Homo sapiens: one gene and its partner. The protein of the gene in region 2 interacts with the protein of the main gene of each other region in a biochemical or structural test. Each region holds a gene or a part of one and is shown on either strand. Other genes may lie near its edges. The genes, in order: NOTCH1 and ZMIZ1.

Region 1 (3,804 bases), on a different chromosome or scaffold from region 2:
CAGCTACTGTGAGGACCTGGTGGACGAGTGCTCACCCAGCCCCTGCCAGAACGGGGCCACCTGCACGGACTACCTGGGCGGCTACTCCTGCAAGGTGGGGGTCCCTCCTAGGGTAAGGGTTGTGGCCGGCACGAGTGTTGCCACACACCAGGCCCTGGCTGGGAGCTGGCCCAGTGGAGAAAACTGAACCTGATAGGCCCATGCACTGTTCAGTCTCATTAGGGGAGGGCTGGGGTAATCAGGGTAGACTGCCTGGAAGAGGTGGCCTGTGGAAAGCCTGAAGGAGGGTACCTATACTGAGAAGTGGGATGGGGTTTTCCCTTCCCCTAGATTGTGTCTGGGCTTGGCCAACACCTACCCTGAGGCCCTCACCTCTATCCTATGGGACGGGGTCCACCCACCCCCAACAGGCAGTGACTCCGGTCACCGAGGCCCCGCCAGGGTCTGTTGGGCTGGGTCTCTCTCCAGGTCTGACAGGAGCGAGGGGCCCGTGGCTTCGCTGGACCTGAGGGCAGCTCATGTGGCCCTGTCAGCCCTCACAGTGGGGTGTGGGAGCACTGCATCCTGGCGCCGGCTGAGCCGAAGGGCCCCTCGTTCTGTCGCCTGCACAGTGCGTGGCCGGCTACCACGGGGTGAACTGCTCTGAGGAGATCGACGAGTGCCTCTCCCACCCCTGCCAGAACGGGGGCACCTGCCTCGACCTCCCCAACACCTACAAGTGCTCCTGCCCACGGGGCACTCAGGGTAAGGGCCGCTGCACGGAGGGCTGGTGTTGGCCATCCATGGCCAGGGCAGGGGCAGGGCAGGCACCCCGGGACCGGCCAGAGGCATCCAGGAACCAGCCAGAAACTCCCATTTTCCTGTGTGAGGCCAAGGCCGACTCACAGCTGCCCAGGGAAAGGGCCCAGAGCGGGGGTCCCAGTGGGAAGGGCGTCTCCACGGCACCCTTGACACCTGCCTCTCCCGAGTGTCCGTGCAGCCCCAGACCTGAGCGCTCGTCTTCCGGGACGGACACGCGGCACGGCAGGGCCGGGGTGTGGCGGGCTTGGGCCACTGACGAAACCTGGCCCCGCAGGTGTGCACTGTGAGATCAACGTGGACGACTGCAATCCCCCCGTTGACCCCGTGTCCCGGAGCCCCAAGTGCTTTAACAACGGCACCTGCGTGGACCAGGTGGGCGGCTACAGCTGCACCTGCCCGCCGGGCTTCGTGGGTGAGCGCTGTGAGGGGGATGTCAACGAGTGCCTGTCCAATCCCTGCGACGCCCGTGGCACCCAGAACTGCGTGCAGCGCGTCAATGACTTCCACTGCGAGTGCCGTGCTGGTCACACCGGTGGGTGCCGCGCCCAGGCGGGTGGGGCGTGTGGGGCAGCAGGGTGAGCCTCTCACTGCCCTGCTCTTACCCCTAGGGCGCCGCTGCGAGTCCGTCATCAATGGCTGCAAAGGCAAGCCCTGCAAGAATGGGGGCACCTGCGCCGTGGCCTCCAACACCGCCCGCGGGTTCATCTGCAAGTGCCCTGCGGTAGGTGCAGGGGTGCAGGGAGGCAGGGGCCCGCCAGGGGAGACACCTGGAGAGGTCCACGTGGGGGCCTCGGGGCGCAGACCGGGCAGTGATCCTCCCGGCCTTCATCCTCCTCCTCACCCTGATGTCTTTTTTTTTTTTTTAGTTTCAATAAATGATTTTAGAGACATTTTAGATTTATAGAAAAATGGAGCAGGAAGTAGACTCCCTGGGGTGGCTGTCCCCTGCACGCAGTTCCCCTGGTTAGCAGCTTGCATCAATTTCACTCTGGATTTCAGTGATACATTGTTACCAACAGCAGCCCTTCCTGTACCTGGGGCTTGCCCTTGGCTTTGTGGTTGTGGGTTTGGGCTGAGGTATGACATGCCTGCCCACCCTCGCAGGATCACGGCAGAGAGTCCCTGCCCTAAAGTCCTCAGCACTCCACCAGTTTACCCCTTCCTCCATCTCCCGACCCCCTGGCACCCCCGATCTTTCTCTGTTGGTAGAATGTGTGTAAAGGGTTTTGCTGCTGGGGGCAAGGTTGCAGGCCGCCTCCCAGGTTAGAGGAGAGCGGTGGCACTGCTGGCCGAGGGCTGGGTGTGAGGTGGCGGGGGGGCGGGGGGTGGCCCACCCCGACACCGTCCTGTCTTCCCTCTCGGGCAGGGCTTCGAGGGCGCCACGTGTGAGAATGACGCTCGTACCTGCGGCAGCCTGCGCTGCCTCAACGGCGGCACATGCATCTCCGGCCCGCGCAGCCCCACCTGCCTGTGCCTGGGCCCCTTCACGGGCCCCGAATGCCAGTTCCCGGCCAGCAGCCCCTGCCTGGGCGGCAACCCCTGCTACAACCAGGGGACCTGTGAGCCCACATCCGAGAGCCCCTTCTACCGTTGCCTGTGCCCCGCCAAATTCAACGGGCTCTTGTGCCACATCCTGGACTACAGCTTCGGGGGTGGGGCCGGGCGCGACATCCCCCCGCCGCTGATCGAGGAGGCGTGCGAGCTGCCCGAGTGCCAGGAGGACGCGGGCAACAAGGTCTGCAGCCTGCAGTGCAACAACCACGCGTGCGGCTGGGACGGCGGTGACTGCTCCCTCAACTTCAATGACCCCTGGAAGAACTGCACGCAGTCTCTGCAGTGCTGGAAGTACTTCAGTGACGGCCACTGTGACAGCCAGTGCAACTCAGCCGGCTGCCTCTTCGACGGCTTTGACTGCCAGCGTGCGGAAGGCCAGTGCAAGTAAGGCTGCGGGGCTCATGGGGCTGAGGGAGGACCTGAACTTGGATGTGGCCTGGCTTGGGCCCGGAGGCCAGCATGCAGTTCTAAGGCTCTGCTCAGGGGGTGCAGGGACGTCCCCCGCGGCTGGCCAGTGGGCTGGAGGCACCGGACGGCGGGTGCGAGGCCCCCCGAGGAAGGCGGCCTGAGCGTGTCCCGCCCCCCACAGCCCCCTGTACGACCAGTACTGCAAGGACCACTTCAGCGACGGGCACTGCGACCAGGGCTGCAACAGCGCGGAGTGCGAGTGGGACGGGCTGGACTGTGCGGAGCATGTACCCGAGAGGCTGGCGGCCGGCACGCTGGTGGTGGTGGTGCTGATGCCGCCGGAGCAGCTGCGCAACAGCTCCTTCCACTTCCTGCGGGAGCTCAGCCGCGTGCTGCACACCAACGTGGTCTTCAAGCGTGACGCACACGGCCAGCAGATGATCTTCCCCTACTACGGCCGCGAGGAGGAGCTGCGCAAGCACCCCATCAAGCGTGCCGCCGAGGGCTGGGCCGCACCTGACGCCCTGCTGGGCCAGGTGAAGGCCTCGCTGCTCCCTGGTGGCAGCGAGGGTGGGCGGCGGCGGAGGGAGCTGGACCCCATGGACGTCCGCGGGTGAGTGAGACCCGGCGCCCACGGTCAATCCCCGCAACTCTCCTGGGCCCTCCCCGACGGCCTCCCTGCCCCTCACGGCCGGCGCCATGGCAAGCAGTACTCTCCCCACTTTATGGTAAAAGAGACGGAGGTTCCGAGAGGACCTGGGACTTCAGGGCCTGCGCAGGCAAGGAGTAGAGGCAGCATTCCAGCTCAGGGCCCTGACCCCACAGCCACACCCTTTTCCTGGGCCACTGCCTTCCCCTGGACAGGCGGCACTCCTGTGCCCAGTAGGTGATTTTGAGATTGAGCTGTGCCTTAGGCACTGGATACTACACTGATTAAAACTCAGCCCTCTGCCAGGCGAGGAGGCTCACACCTGTAATCCCAGCACTTTGGGAGGCTGAGGCAGGCGGAGCCCTTGAGCCCAGGAGTTCGAGACCAGTCTG
Region 2 (3,804 bases):
AGCCACTGTGCCCAGTCCTCTCCTGAGTTTAAGCATAAGCTGGCCAGGTGTGGTGGCTCGCGCCTGTAATCCCAGCACTTTGGGAGGCCGAGGTGGGCGGATCGTGAGGTCAGGAGATTGTGACCATCCTGGCTAACACGGTGAAACCCCGTCTCTACTAAAACACAAAAAATTAGCCAGGTGCGGTGGTGGGCGCCTGTAGTCCCAGCTACTCGGGAGGCTGAGGCAGGAGAATGGCGTGAACCTAGGAGGCGGAGCTTGCAGTGAGCGGAGATAGCACCACTGCACTCCAGCCTGGACGACAGAGCAAGACTCCGTCTCAAAAAAAAAAAAAAAAAACTTAGCTGGGCGTGGTGGCATGCACCTATAGTCCCAACTCCTTGGGAGGCTGAGGCAGGAGAATGGCGTGAACCCATGAGGCGGAGCCTGCAGTGAGCCGAGATCATGCCACTGCACTCCAGCCTGGGTAACAGAGCGACATTCTCTCTCTCTCTCAAAAAAAAAAAAAAAAAAAAAAAAGCATGAGCTGTTGAAGTAGGGAGGCCAATCTGGAATCCACCCTCCATGCCTTCTGCCTGATGAAGATCCCCTCTTCTCTAAATCCTCCCATCTTTTAAAGGCCTGGCCCAGGTCATCACCTCCTCCAGGAAGCCTGCTTCCTGACATTTTGTTTTAATCTGCCTCATGTCCTGTGCTGCTATTGCAGGTATGCCTGTTCTGGCTCCCAAGCTGGACTGCCAGCTCTTCCACACAGGGCAGGTCCCAGAACTCCCACCAGCTCTTATGGGACCTAGCTTCTCTGACCACGACAACAGCCCCAGGAGGAGGGCATGAGCCTCAGGACAGGGCGCGCTCAGGGACACTCCAGGCCCGGTGGTGACATGCACGGAGGCAAAGGTCAGTTCCAGGTGAATGGTGACTGCTTCTCAGTCCCAAACTCAGGCGGGGATGGAGTCTGGCCCTCACCCCCGTCCCCACCCTGACTCACTTTTCGTGATACAGTGCTCTGCGGGCAGGAGGCGCTTCTTGAGGAGTCCTTGCAGCACAGAGCGGACGGAGGGCCGGTGTACCAGCTGCAGCACGAAGAGGTGGGACTGCGGGGAGAGAGGAGACACTCAGTTCCTGTGCACTGTCCCCACACCCCGCCCTGCCTGCAGCCTCAGCAGCCCTAGACTGCTCCCAGGATCCCACAGCCGGCCCAGGAGGCTCCCCCAGGGTGTCTCCTGGGACTTGCGAGCCTGAGCACTACTCTGGAAAGGCTGCCTCTGCTGCAGATCGACAAGGTGGACTTTGACACTGAAATACTCCCTGGATAAGGTTATAGGACACAAGGCTTTAAGCCTGGGTCCCACTTTGCTTCCTAACCTCCCCTACCACTGCCTCCCCATCATGTGTCCTTAGCCCTTCCTGCCAGGGTGCTCATCCCTCCCTTCACTCCTCCAGGAAGCCTTCCAGAACTGCACATCCCAAACGTCCACCCATCAGCCGCCTCACTCTGACAGTTGTGCAGCCTCACACAGCACATCACATTCCCCAGCCAGAATGGGATGTGCTGCCCAGGTCTGTGACCCCTATCTCTGTGTAGCCTCCGTGCCCCTAAGCTCACAAGGGTGGATCAGAGTGTTTCCTTCTCCATGCCTCCACAGAGAGGCCAGTGGAGTGGGGCAGGCAATTTACTTCCACTGGGGCCTGAGCAAGCCCTGTGTGTTGGGCCCTGATCTTCAGGGGACATGAGGGTGGCTGAGAGCTGGTCCTAGGTAACAAGTCACGGGTTGGAAGGACCCCCATACGTGACTCTAAGACAAGGGGGTTGGGAAAGAAGGGAACGCGTTAACTCCAGGTTTGGGGGCGTTGGGTCTGGGGGAAAAGGTGCTGACAATGACAACTGCTGGTGAATGAGGCAAGCAGGACATGGCTTTGAGGAACACAGAACTGCACCAATGAATGAAGGGTAGGGAGGAGGGGCCAGGAGGGGTGAATCGGAAGCATGTGTGGAGAACAGACGGAGGCTGAGTGTCCAGGGGAAGAGGCCACGTCTGAAGCCAGGGCACAGTGGCTTTGAAGGCCCAACGGTTTGAAGGTTATTGCACAGGCCCTGGGCACAGGTAAGGGGACGCTGTATCTTTGGCGGCTGTGGGCACGGGGGTGGTGACGCAGGGACAAGGCTGAGGACCAGAGTGGGGCAGGGTATTCCGCACTCTCATGCCGTGAAACAGGGCCTGCCTGTGCCAACGCTGCCCCTGGCCCACCACACTCACGCAGCAGCAGGCCGTGACGGTGATCTGGATGGTGTTGCGGCCCGGCTGGCACACGTGCTTCAGGTGCAGGGGCTTGTGGGAGGTCTTGTTGTCGCCGCGCTCAATGGTGAGGGGCGTGGCGTTCACGCTGACCTGCACCGAGGCGGGCCAGTTGGTGTTCATCTGCCGGTCCTCGTGGTGGTAGCACTTGAACTGCAGCTCCAGGTCAGACCTAGGTGGGGAACGAGGGTGCTCAGGGCAGCTCTGCCAGGGGGCTGTCCATGGCCTCCGTGACCCCGAGCCAGGTCACACACCTCTAAACACACCACAACCTCCGAGATCCTCAGGACCCCATCCCTGACCCCAATGATTCCCCCAGCCTGAGTTCTCCTCTCCCATTCTGGATACTCCCTCTACACCCAAACTGCCCCCAAGACCCCCGCACACCAATCATTCCCATCACACCCCACAGCTCTAGCTCCCATCTCCCTGGAATGTCCTCCCTGTAGGGGTCAACTCCTGGATCCCCAGGACAGAGACAGAGGGGCAAATGAACAGGCACTCATTTGACAAGACCTGCTGTGAGGCCAGCCAACCCCATCTCTAGACCTGCTGGGAGCTGTCCTCCCAGGCCACGGCCATTTCTGGTTCTGAGCACTCCCCAAGGAGGCCCCCCAAGGACGCAGCACTGAGGAGTGTCAGGAACCAGCAGTGACCATATATGTGTGACAAGCAAGCCAGGAAGAGGAGGCCTCCCAGGCCAGGACACTCCCAGCTAAGGAGCGTGGGTGAGCAGGGTGCAGGCAGGCAGCACAGTGGTTTGTCCCGTGCCAGGGACCTCTGTCCTCCTGCCTGAGCGTTGCAGCTCCTGTGTTCTGAACGCCCACACCAGCTATCTGTGGCCACCTCACCCAGCCTGCTCAGCATGGTCAAGAAAACAGCAGGGGTGTGTGTGCATGTGCCAGGCACAGACCCAGCTCTTGCGCTGGAGATGCTCACTGGGCAGTCAAGGGGGTCTGAGTCACAAGCACAGTGAGACTGTGAGTCTTGACTGAGGATGAAGGACTGAAGGGTGGACACCCCCAGGGTTGGTTCTGGCATCCTGGAGACCTGGGCCCAAGTCTCAGCTCCGCCCCTGGCTAGCTGTGAGAACTCACACAAGCCAATTCACTTCTCTAGCCTCAGCTTCCTCCTCTGTCAAAAGGGAAAGTGTTGCCCATTTCCAAGATCAAAGTGGGTCACACGTGGAAGGTGCTGAGCATGGGCCTGGCTCAGCAGGGAACCTCCGGACCTTGTGTTCCAGCACGTGCCTAAGTGTCTGAGCAGCAGCCCTGCCCAATGGTCAGCCCCCTGCAATAGATGGGGCCTGCCTGACCCCGGCCTGGCCCTTGCACCAGCCTCATCTCTGCATTCCTGGCTCTGGCCACATGAGTCACACTCGAATTCTTGACTGCGTTCCCTCTTGTCAGCTCACGGTCTCAGATGGGATACACAGCTTCCCAGCCTAGGTCTGAGCCAGCCACCTTTTCCTCTGGGGTGAGTGACAGCTGCTCCCTGCCCTTGGGCC

The links.
Region 1: the proteins of ZMIZ1 (region 2) and NOTCH1 are reported together in a solved structure, tested with the Homo sapiens proteins (one study listed by BioGRID).

The regions. Positions count from the first base shown.
Region 1 is NC_000009.12:136,504,245-136,508,048, reverse strand, and holds part of NOTCH1 (neurogenic locus notch homolog protein 1 preproprotein), read left to right. Parts: coding exon 1-94; intron 95-611; coding exon 612-744; intron 745-1,075; coding exon 1,076-1,333; intron 1,334-1,409; coding exon 1,410-1,522; intron 1,523-2,167; coding exon 2,168-2,739; intron 2,740-2,944; coding exon 2,945-3,376; intron 3,377-3,804. UniProt on the Homo sapiens protein: Functions as a receptor for membrane-bound ligands Jagged-1 (JAG1), Jagged-2 (JAG2) and Delta-1 (DLL1) to regulate cell-fate determination.
Region 2 is NC_000010.11:79,299,397-79,303,200, reverse strand, and holds part of ZMIZ1 (zinc finger MIZ domain-containing protein 1), read right to left. Parts: intron 2,470-3,804; coding exon 2,259-2,469; intron 1,095-2,258; coding exon 989-1,094; intron 1-988. UniProt on the Homo sapiens protein: Acts as a transcriptional coactivator. Increases ligand-dependent transcriptional activity of AR and promotes AR sumoylation. The stimulation of AR activity is dependent upon sumoylation.